Regions from separate parts of the Homo sapiens genome. Here region 1 is linked to region 2. The links come from fine-mapping of genetic effects on gene expression. A gene starts in region 2. The other region holds a variant in brackets. All regions are shown on one strand. Distances are from middle to middle. Region 1 overlaps MDN1 (midasin AAA ATPase 1). Region 2 holds the start of LYRM2 (LYR motif containing 2).

Region 1 (5,535 bases), 32 kb after region 2:
GAAGCACCAATATATCTAGGGCTCTGTAGATCACAGATTAAAAATTATTAACCTAGTAAAAACCATTTTTATGTGTAACTTACATGTTGAAAAGAAAGAGAGTGATCTTCTGTCAACTGTATACCTATGTGAAAACGTACCTGTTCTTCATTTCCGATCTGGTCACTCACATCCTTCATGCCCTCGCCTTCTCCAATTCCACCTCCCTCATAGTCATGGAACTCAGTTGCTCCCTCTCCAGCTGAATCTTCCATAAATTCTTTGGGCAAGCAAAATCCCTTAGAAAAAAGAAAAAGGAAGTGAACAATTAGGCACAAAAGCAATTTTAAAAGGAGATTTCATTCTTGCCACAGGAAAACAATTTAAACACATACTGAATTCTTTTTCTAGCTCATTATCTTAAATCCGCTGGAAGTACAGGAGACTTCTGACATTCTTCTCCTCTTTGGTGCTAATAGTTATGCAGTTTCACAGCTTGACATCAGATTTAACATATGACTTGACTTTGTAGAAGCCTCTGGCATGTGGTCATTTGTCACTTTGCCAAGACAAAAACCTAAATGAAGTATACTAGAAGGACAGTATTTTGGAAAAAGTCCTTGAGTAAGGGCAGAACAGGCTCTGGAGAGAACACAGTCAGACATAGTAATAACTGTGAAATGTTGAAAAAAACTATTTTATACAGGAAAATAACCTGAGAAGAATACTAGCCTGCTGAGCAGAAGTAAAAAGAAAAAGTAGTAGTGACTCTCAATCAGAAAGTTTAATTTTGTAAGAGAAAATATATACTATGAAGATATATCTGAGGATGGGAATGCACAAAAAAATAAGCTGCTAATTAGCAAGGAATTAAGATCCCAAACCAGTAAACACTAATTATGACTTGGTTACACAGAAACAGCTTCCTGCGGATCAAGAGCTTTAATTACAGCCTAGATCTATTATCTTAGCACTGTCTAACCTACTCTCAAGTTCCCTTGAACTACTCAGAAAAGATATGAATACAATTTGGACACTTAGAAAAATTTTTAACAAGCCAAACCCACTTTTAGGACATATATTCTCAGAATGTTGATAGGAAAATACAGTTTGGCTTACTTGCTTAATTTTCCCATTGAACTACATTATTTAAATGAGAGACATTCAGAAATAGACAAAGAATACGACCACATAGGAGGGAGTTTCAGATGCCCTTACCAGAGTATATCATTGCAGCTGCTACGTCTGGGATAGCCACAGGGCTCCCAACATTCTGCACATATCAGAACCATTCCTACCCGCAACAGACAAAGGTTTGAAAGGCCAAAGTCATTCTACAGCCTGTCAGACAAAAGCTACGGTACAAATGGACAAATCCAGCTGAGCCAAATCTCAAGGCACCCGAACCACACATTTTCCTGCCACTATCTTTAGTATACAGTGTTTTCTCCAAGAAGCAATGGAATGTTAAGGCTGGCCTGGTGCCCACCAGAGGCGGAGAAACCTGAGACTCATTCTTTTACTTATTATTACTTTTTATTATTATTATTATTACTGTTACTTATCATTACTACAGATAAACATATTTATCCTCTTGATACAAGGCATTAGGCTTGGCTTCCACTTTTTACCTCTTTCCAGTATTTCAGAGACTCGGAACTAAGAACTCTTAATTGTTTATAAGAAATCTAGACCCCATCTTCAGTTTGTAAATTCATATCTTCCTCAAGTACATCTCATCTGTATTAAGCTTGGAGAAAATCTTAGAATGCTAAGAACAAAAACAAAACTTATATACTCAAATGCAGGTGGTTCTCACAAAAATGCATATTAGTATAGGCAGATCTCATTTTACAAATGAGGAAACTGAGGCTTGGTGAGGTTAAGAGAGACCGAGAGCTGGATATCTCTATGACTAGACCTACCCACACCATGTTGCTGTTAGATTTCACTGTCTACTGCCCCTGAGTTTCAAGGGGAGGGTCTACAATCTCTACAACCTCAGTGCTTTTCACAATACCGGGTACATGGCTGAATGAACAAATGACTTCCCTGCTAAAGAAAAAAACTGGCTGGGCGCAGTGGCTTACACATGTAATCCCAGCACTTTGGGAGGCCGAGGTGGACAGATCACAAGGTCAGGAGATCGAGACCGTCCTGGCCAATGTGGTGAAACCCTGTCTCTACT[A/G]AAAATACAAAAATTAGCCAGGCGTGGTGGCACGTGCCTGTAATCACGTGGAGATTACAATTACAATTACAATTTTGGAGACTCTGTCTCCAAAAAAACATATATATATATATATATATATATATATATATTTTTTTTTTTTTTTTTTTTGAGATGCAGTTTTGCTCTTGTTGCCCAGGCTGGAGTGCAATGGCATGATTTTGGCTCACTGCAACCTCCGCCTCCCCGGGTTCAAACAATTCTCCTGTCTCAGCCTCTTGAGTAGCTGGGATTACAGGCACATGCCACCACGCCCAGCTAATTTTTGTATTTTTAGTAGAGATGGGGTTTCATCATAATATTGGTCAGGCTGGTCTCAAATTCCTGACCTCAGGTGATCCACCCGCCTCAGCCTCCCAAACTGCTGGGATTACAGGCGTGAGCCACCACAACAGGCGAAAAACACTCTAATAATAACAGGCCCATTATCATTTAATCATAATTACACCAACATGGTTAAAAGAAAACTTAATAGCCTTAAGGGTTTATCCTACAACTCTAGTTCAAGAGTTATCTGAAGATTTACATTGGGGATGGGAAGGGAAGGGTGTTAACAGACGGCAGCAGCTTTTAGACAGCGCTGGAGTTTAGGGAACTCGTCAGTTTGGGGGAAAGGGTGGGTTGGGGATAGGAGGTATCATCTGCAGGTTCTGAGACTTTAGTGGAAACAGCGTTAGCAAAAGGATGCCAGACAAAGCCCTAAATAATCCACAGGGAGAGCAAATCACATCCTGCTATTTGTGGTGGTCCAAAATAAAAGCCTATCACACCAAAGACTAATGACATGAAATTTACTTGGGTCCCTGCTGCTCACAGTGCACCATGTGAACAGTCCTTACCTTCTGGGCAAGCTCTGTAAAGACCTGGGCAAGCACAGAGAGCAGCTTTGCAGTACTACGGTGAGTTGCTAAAGACATGGTCAGGAAGAAGAGGACGAGGTCTGAGTAGCTGGAGAGGACCGGCACCAGGCGCACCAGCAAGGAACAGGATTGGCTGAAGAACTGAGACCAAAACAAAACAAAAGGCCTGCTCACACTGCTTGGCAGGTACCAGGTTTCCATTCTGGAACTAGATAGTGGTGGTAATTGCACAACATTGTGAATGTACTAAATAGTACTAATGGCAAGTTACATGTATGTGTTTGTAACCTCCACCCACCCCAATACACACAGCTCACTGAGATTTCTTCATTTACATATATCGTCACAAAAGTACAATCTCAAACCGATGTCTCCTTTGGCTAACAATGTTGGTTTTTTAAAAATAGAATGTTGGCCAGGCACAGTGGCTCACGCCTTTAATCCCAGCACTTTGGGAGGCCAAAGTGGGTAGACTGCTTGAGCCCAGGAGTTCAAGTTCATGTTGCCTGGGCAACATGGCAAAACCCCATTTCTACAAAAAATACCAAACAAAAAAAACATATAGCCAGAACCCATCTTTACAAAACTTTAAAAATTAGCTGGGCATGGTGGTGCATGCCTATACTGCCAGCTATCTGGGAGGCTGAGGTGTGAGGATCACCTGAGCCCAGGAGGTCAAGGCTACAGTGAGCCATGGTCATGCCACCACACTCTCCAGCCTCGACAACAGAATGAGACCGTGTCCCAAAATAAAATAAGAAAAATAAAATGTTTATAAATAAATTCTGCTGATTCAAAGTTAGCACCGGAGGCAATGCTACAGAATAACATACAATGTCCTGCAAAGTAAGTTGCTTCTCTGGACTTACTGTAAAGACTACAACTGCTTACTCTGTTCGCTTATTGTAGTGGGAATGGTGGTTACACAGGATGGCTGCTAAGCCTCAGTTGATAACATCGTCTATCAGTAACATCAGATACTTGGGAGTATGTGAATAAGATATGAAAGAATCCTAATATAATGGATATTCTGAATGGTTAGCATTTCTGCACCTATGCATCTAACAATTAGCTAGCAAGCCCTAAGCTCTTCAAAGCTTGTCAATGACTTTGCACGTATAAATAAAGAGACCAAGTTCTTAGTGATTTTGGCACTGAGGCCTGCTCTGGCACTTATCTACGTGGAGGGAAGTAAAGCCCACTCTGCCTTTGCTCAGTGCATTCTGAAGAGGAAGAAGTTTGTAAAGAACAGTTAGTTACCAGGTGCTTTGCTGCTGTGCCATCCTCACCGTACGATTTCAGCCTCTCCAACAGCTCGGAGATGGCAGAAATTATTTTCTGCACGTGCAAAGTGCTCACATCGGCCCAGAAGTCATCCTCTAAGAGTTTTGTTAGATGTCCTGATTGCAGTCTCTCAAAGCCTGCTGCCTCATTCATTCAGAGAAAATAACAACATGATGAATAACAGAAAACAAATCCTTTTATCTCTATCCATGCAGTTATCTGTTTCTAACATCCATCCTTAACTATTTAGCCACAGAAATAAATCATCAAATACAAAAATTAAATCAGGCATGAAACTAATTTCTGCCTGATTTCAGACATACCATAATCTTCTTGTGGGCTTGCTTGGTCAGTGTTCTCCTCTGCTTTTTCATTCTTTCTTTCTTCTAAGTTCTGGATGGCACAGAGGATGGCTCGGATGGCAATTTCCATTTGCTCTGAAAAATCTTCCACAAATCCTTCGTCCAACATTTGATTTCCTAGCAGGTAACATGGTGCAAAACAAACATACAAACAAAAGACACCAATCATTTGCTTTAGTGCCTCTGGAAATCATTAAAAATACTCATTTATTGATGAGCCACTGTGTCAAGCTGTGCCAGATACAAAGAAGAGACAAATTCCTTGCCTCGATAAACCTACAAGTTTATTACCTTGTATTAAAACATTTTTACTAAAATAATGTAAAAAATATAAAAATAACAGTTAAGACAGTATGAATAAACACTAACTTAGTCCAAATATCAGTGCCAAGCTTTTTCAATCTAAGGGAAAACAGACAGTGAGCTGATGCTGCCTTCCTATGTGTGTTACAAAGTATGTAACAGGCATCCAAACAAATGGGGCAAAAAAGTTAAGAGCTGTGGATTTCAACCGCACCTCCCTGCCTCAGAACCCTGGACAGGTACATGTAGACCAAAATATAATGTGTCTTTTGGACAATGAGACTTACATCTATAAGACATCATTTCTACACTGGACTTTCATTCCCTGACTGAACAATATTCCTTACCTCCTTGGCTATCTGAAGTAAGCAGATGGGTCTTCCAGGTAGTAAAGTCAGCCATGGCTTTACTAATTTCTCCTCTTACATATTCCAGACTTTCAACTAGTGCCATTTGTGAGTCTCTTTGCTCAACCTCCATCCCTGGAAGAATGAACAAGGACTCTAGGCCCTGCAAATGA
Region 2 (5,181 bases):
CTGGTAAGTGCTTCAATGTGCTCATTAAGCTTCTCTTTCTCTTCCCTTTTCAACAAAGATCTAGATTCCCAGTGGTGATCTTTTTGATGAGTTCTCTATCAAACTATGACACATCTGAAGAACGTACCTGAACAACCCTCAGGGATAATGCAGGATTTTTCGAGAAAGTTCCAGGGTATCTCCTGGTGTCAGTATACTTTCAGTCCTACACCTCAAGAGTTTTTTAATAACAGCTTTATTGAGATACAATTCATACCTTACATTTAAAATGTACAGTTCAGTGGATTTGAATATATTCAAGAGTTGTGCAGCCTACACCACAAGCTAACTGTAGGATATTTTCATCACCCTGAAAAGGAACCCTACACCCATTAGCAGTTACTCCATTCCATCTACAGCCAGCCTAGGCAACCACTAATCTTTCTGCCTATTCTGGACATTTCGTATGAATGGAATCATCATGTGATCTTTTGTGACCGGCTTCTTTCACTTAACGTTTTCAAGGTTTATCCATGTTTAGTATATATAAGTCCTTCGTTTCTTTTTAGTGCCAAATAATGGCTATGGGCATGGGGTAGAAGTGCTAACTCATACAGCAGCTGTTTCATCTTTTGAGGAACTGACCGTCTGTTTTCTGAAGTGGCTACACCATTTTACATTCCCACCAGCAATGTATGAGGGTTCTGTAATTTCTGTACATCTTCACCAAGACTTATTATTATTTCTCTTTTTAATTACAGCCATTCTAGTGAATGTGAATCTCAGGGTTGTTTTTTTTTTTTTTTTTTAGAGACTGTCTCACTCTGTCACCCAGGCTGAAGTGCAGTGGCACGACCTCAGCTCACTGCAACCTCCACTTCCTGGGTTCAAGTGATTCTCCTGCCTCAGCCTCCCAAGTAGCTGGGACTACAGGCAATGCACCACCACACCAAGCTAATTTTTGTATTTTTAGTAGAGATGAGGTTTCACCATGCTGGCCAGGCTGGTCTTGAACTCCTGACCTCAAGTGATCCACCTACCACAGCCTCCTAAAGTACTGGGATTACAAGCATGAGCCACTACACCCGACCTCATAGTAGTTTTGATTTACACTTCCCTAATGATTGTGTCCAGCATCTACTGGCCATTTGTTAGTGGTTTTTTTCTTCTTTTAAGAACTGCTGAGACATCCATAAACATTTTCAAAATGCAGGGTATGTTTTTCAGTGTTAAGGCAACTGTTCTGATGTGTTTTTCCTTTGCTCTCTATCACCAAATACTGTACATATAAATAGTAAGACTGGGCTTTGTGTTGTCCATTGTTAATCCTAAATGCAACAAAACACATGGAGACTTTGAAAATCCTTCAGAATAATGCTATAGTTAAGATTTTGCTAAAGCAAGTGTTTTTTCTAACTCCTTGAGCTGCATATTGCCTTGAGTAATCATCATCCGGATTGTATCCTGTAGAATAAAGTGAAATCTGGTTATAGTTTTACCTGGTTAAACAAGGTATAGCTATACCATTTTATCTGTTAAAATCAAGAACCAATACTACCTATTGGAACTGCTGCCTTTTAGAAAAGCTAAAAGAGTTCCACATACATACATATAAAATGTACAACATAAAAGTCAAGTGATGATGCTGAAGAGTGTAGATACTCTTTTATCTACATATTTTAAAATACTAAATTTTAAAATAATAATTTAAAATCGGTAACATTACAAGCAATGATCAAGATATACCAGCTCAGTGGCACTATATTCCAAGATGTCTGCTAAACTTAAAAAAAAAAATTCACTGATCAATAAAAAGGGTTAGGATCTGTCCTCACCATGATTTTGTTCTCACCTCTTCGGTGGCACTTTTGTTTCTTCTGAATTCTTCTCTTGCCCAATCTTTCAGGTATTTGCGATCAGAATCATTTGGAACTTGCCGAATTGTTTGCAAAATCCTTCTGTAGAGGAGAAGAACTTGTTGCCTTCTTACGAACTGTAAAAGGGAGGAGTAAATAGCAATTACTACTGCACAATCGCCAGCCTGGAAAGTTCTACTTCAGCAAACCAAGCTGTAACCAGAGTACTTCTCGTTGGTCAATTTTGAAAAAGGCAAAGAAAAACTTTTTTTTTTCTTTTTTTGGCCAGATGCAGTGGCTCAGGCCTGTAATCCCAGCACTTTGGGAGGCCAAGATGGGAGGATCACTTGAGCCCAGGAGGTCTAAGCTGAGGTAAGCCTTCATTGCGCTACTGCACTCAGCCTGGGCGAGAGTGAGGCCCTGTCTCAAAAAGATGTTTTAAAGAAAGCATCACGAGGTTCATCTGATCTTTTTGCTTACTGCTCTGTCAAACCTAAGAACCATTAAAAAATCAGGAGCTGCCTACCGGGCTGAAAAGGGCTGCCGGTCTCCTAGAAGTTGTTATTACAACGACAGCACTTTTTCTAAATTAACAGTTGTTCAAATCTTTGGTAATCTCATTTGCTGTTTGCCACAGCTCAGTGCAATAGACTTTTACCGTGGGCACTGGGCAGCTGAGGCACCGGGACTCAGGGAAATCAAGCGCCTGACGCTGTCTCACGCGATCGCACCAAACCAAGGAAGCAGCCAGTGCCTCCCGTCAGGCCCCGCGGAGCGAAGCACCGCCCCGCAGGCATCGGGCCAATCTCAGAGGGCGCGCACGCCGCATCAGGACCCCGGAACCCGCCCCGTTGGGGATAGGGACAGATGGAGAATCCAGCTCAGACCCAGGTAAGCTGCTTTGGAAGGCAGAGAACCGCCGGTACCTGCTTTAACGTTAGCGTCGCTGGGGGTAAGCGGGAAGCAGCCATGTCCACCAGAGGTCCGCCGGAGCCTCAGCGCGCAGGAGCGGAAGTGGGGTTCGACCAAGGGGTGTGGCGAGCCCGGTTTCCTAGGAGACGGCCCGCGGGTTGCTCTCGGACTGAGAGCGCGAGGCTTCGGGACTGAGCCCTAGCTGCTGCGCTGGCCGAAGTTTTCTCGTCGGTAAAATAGGATAACAGTGCACCATAGGGTCGTTTTGATAAAGAAGAAAGGTAGGGCACTTAACACAGTTCCTGGTAAAGAGAGTTCAAATGAAAGTGAAGGAGGCCGGGCGCGGTGGCTCTCACCTGCAGTCCCAAGCACTCTGGGAGGCCTGTAAGGTGCCTGTAATCCCAGCTCCTCGGGATGCTGAGGCAGGAGAATCGCTTGAACCCGAGAAGTGAAGGTTGCAGTGATCCGAGATCGCACCACTGCACTCCATCCTGGGCGACAGAGCGAGACCCTGTCTCGAAAAAAAAGTTAAGGTTTTTTTGGGGGAAAGAGGTGAAAACGTATTTAAATGTTCTTTCGAGCCTTTAAAAATGTGTATAGTTGAAAATACTAAAATTGAAAGTGTTAATTTCTTTTACAGTTTGTGTTGGTTTTTTCTCTTTCTCGTTTTTGTCCTGTTCTTTTGTAGCGCAAAGGTTTTCCGGGAGCGGTGGCCTTCATGATCATTTGAAACAAAGCTTTGAATGGCTCACCCACTTCAGTCTTAAGCACTTTTCATCACTAATAACGAGGAGCCTAACATCCCTAAGCCTCAGGCTTTTGCTTTTATTTCCTTATAGTTGTTTTATCTTTCCCACAATACACATGCCTTTGGGTTAAATCACTAGAAGTGGAGTTAGCGAATCTTTGCCATATTAATTTTCCAAGTGGTGTTGTATCGAATTAAAATAGAACGAAAAATGTTCAATTACTAGTTTACTGGGGACTTGCTTGCCTCGCCTGTTAGCATCCTGGGGCTCCCTATTCCTAGCTGTGTTCTGGCTATTTCCCCTCTCCTGGCCTATTACCTCCCCTGTAAAGTGAAATATAGCATCTACCTCAGTTGTGTATCTCTAATGTACTGAGAACAGGTCCTGGCACATGTAAGAACTCTAATCATTAGCTCTTTTGAACTTTACCAGGCATTGTATGAATGATGCTAACTGCATGATCATATTATCAATAATATATGCCAAATTTTGTCTAATACATTAGCTGTAATAGTTAATTGCTAACTTTTTAAAAGGAGTGAAGTTAAATACCCCTCGCCATTTTTAGTTATACTGTTTTTGTGAATTGTTCATGACTTGGGTCCGTTTATGATGAGGACATTTATATGGGCTCTATATTTTTTGTCATTTCTTTATACATACAGAAACTTTATACAATCATGTATTTTTGTGCCTTTTGAGGCTTTTCATTTCCCATTCAGGCCTTTGTAATTCGTTTTTTAAAAACTTTAATTTTTAAAATATTTACTCCATCTAGAATTTACTTTGGTTTACAGCATCACGTGGATCTAAGTTCTTTTCTAGATGTTAAGCTGTATCAATACCATTGATTACATAACTCATTCCTTTTTCGGGGCTTTATGATGGATGCCTTTTTGACTGTATGATAAATTCTTTTAGGGTCTGAGTAATCTGTCCAGAATTGTTTCATTTAGGGTTAAGTTTTTACTTTTTGTTTTATATGTTTTTATTATCTGGCAGGACTCTAGTTTCTTGTAAAAAATCCATTAGTACTGTTCTCTATAATCTTTAGAAATGTTTTGTATCATTTCCCTCCAAATCATCTTGTGATCTTGGTTGGAATTTTGAAGTAGTGTTGAATCTATACATTAATATGTGAGAAAGACATTTTTACATTATTTCTTCTTCCCATCAAGAAACACTCAGGCCAGGTGCGGTGGCTCATGCCTATAATCCCAACACTTTGGGATACCGAGGTGGATCACCTGAGGTCAGGAGTTCGAGACCAGCCTGGCCAACATGGTGAAACCTCGTCTCTACTAAAATACAAAAAATTAGCCGGGCCTGGTGGCGCACGCCTGTGGTCCCAGCTACTTGGGAGGCTCAGGCAGGAGAATCGCTTGAACCTGGGAGACGGAGGTTGCAGTGAGCCGAGATTGCGCCATTGCACTCCAGCCTGGGCAACAAGAGCAAAGCTCTATTTAAAAAAAAAAAAAAAAAAAAAAAAGGGCTCACTCTTGCTAGACACTGGTAATGCTGTCGTGAGTCACATATGCTCCTTGCTCAAAGACTCATGCTTTGGGCAGGAAAACCTCTAAGTTCAATATAGTGCTAACAAAGAATGCTGCAGTTCATACTGTGGGAAATTATTCTTCCTGGAGGGCTTGTCTGAGCTAGGTATTTGTCAGAAACGCAGAATCACT

What was found. PIP is the estimated chance that this variant, and not a neighbour inherited with it, causes the effect. A credible set is the group of variants that fine-mapping cannot tell apart.
Region 1: its variant is the best candidate, but not a certain one, in a credible set for the expression of LYRM2 in tibial nerve (GTEx, PIP 0.52).

The regions. Positions count from the first base shown.
Region 1 is chr6:89,667,874-89,673,408 of GRCh38, forward strand. It overlaps MDN1 (midasin AAA ATPase 1), which reads right to left. Exons shown (of 102, transcript NM_014611.3): 80 at 5,363-5,535; 81 at 4,674-4,829; 82 at 4,327-4,490; 83 at 3,046-3,207; 84 at 141-278. The region is part of intron 1 of MDN1-AS1 (MDN1 antisense RNA 1); the gene reads left to right. Among named protein-coding and RNA genes, the nearest start is that of LYRM2, 32 kb to the left of the region's middle. RefSeq lists a silencer at 337-631. The variant A/G (reference allele first, on the strand shown) is at 2,168.
Region 2 is chr6:89,635,911-89,641,091 of GRCh38, forward strand. LYRM2 (LYR motif containing 2) reads right to left here and starts at 2,837. Exons shown (of 3, transcript NM_020466.5): 1 at 2,762-2,837; 2 at 1,832-1,972; 3 at 1-1,443. The coding sequence starts at 2,806. The coding sequence ends at 1,363. MDN1-AS1 (MDN1 antisense RNA 1) reads left to right here and starts at 2,622. Exons shown (of 4, transcript NR_111915.1): 1 at 2,622-2,726. RefSeq lists enhancers at 1,585-2,784, 2,137-2,366, 2,587-2,636.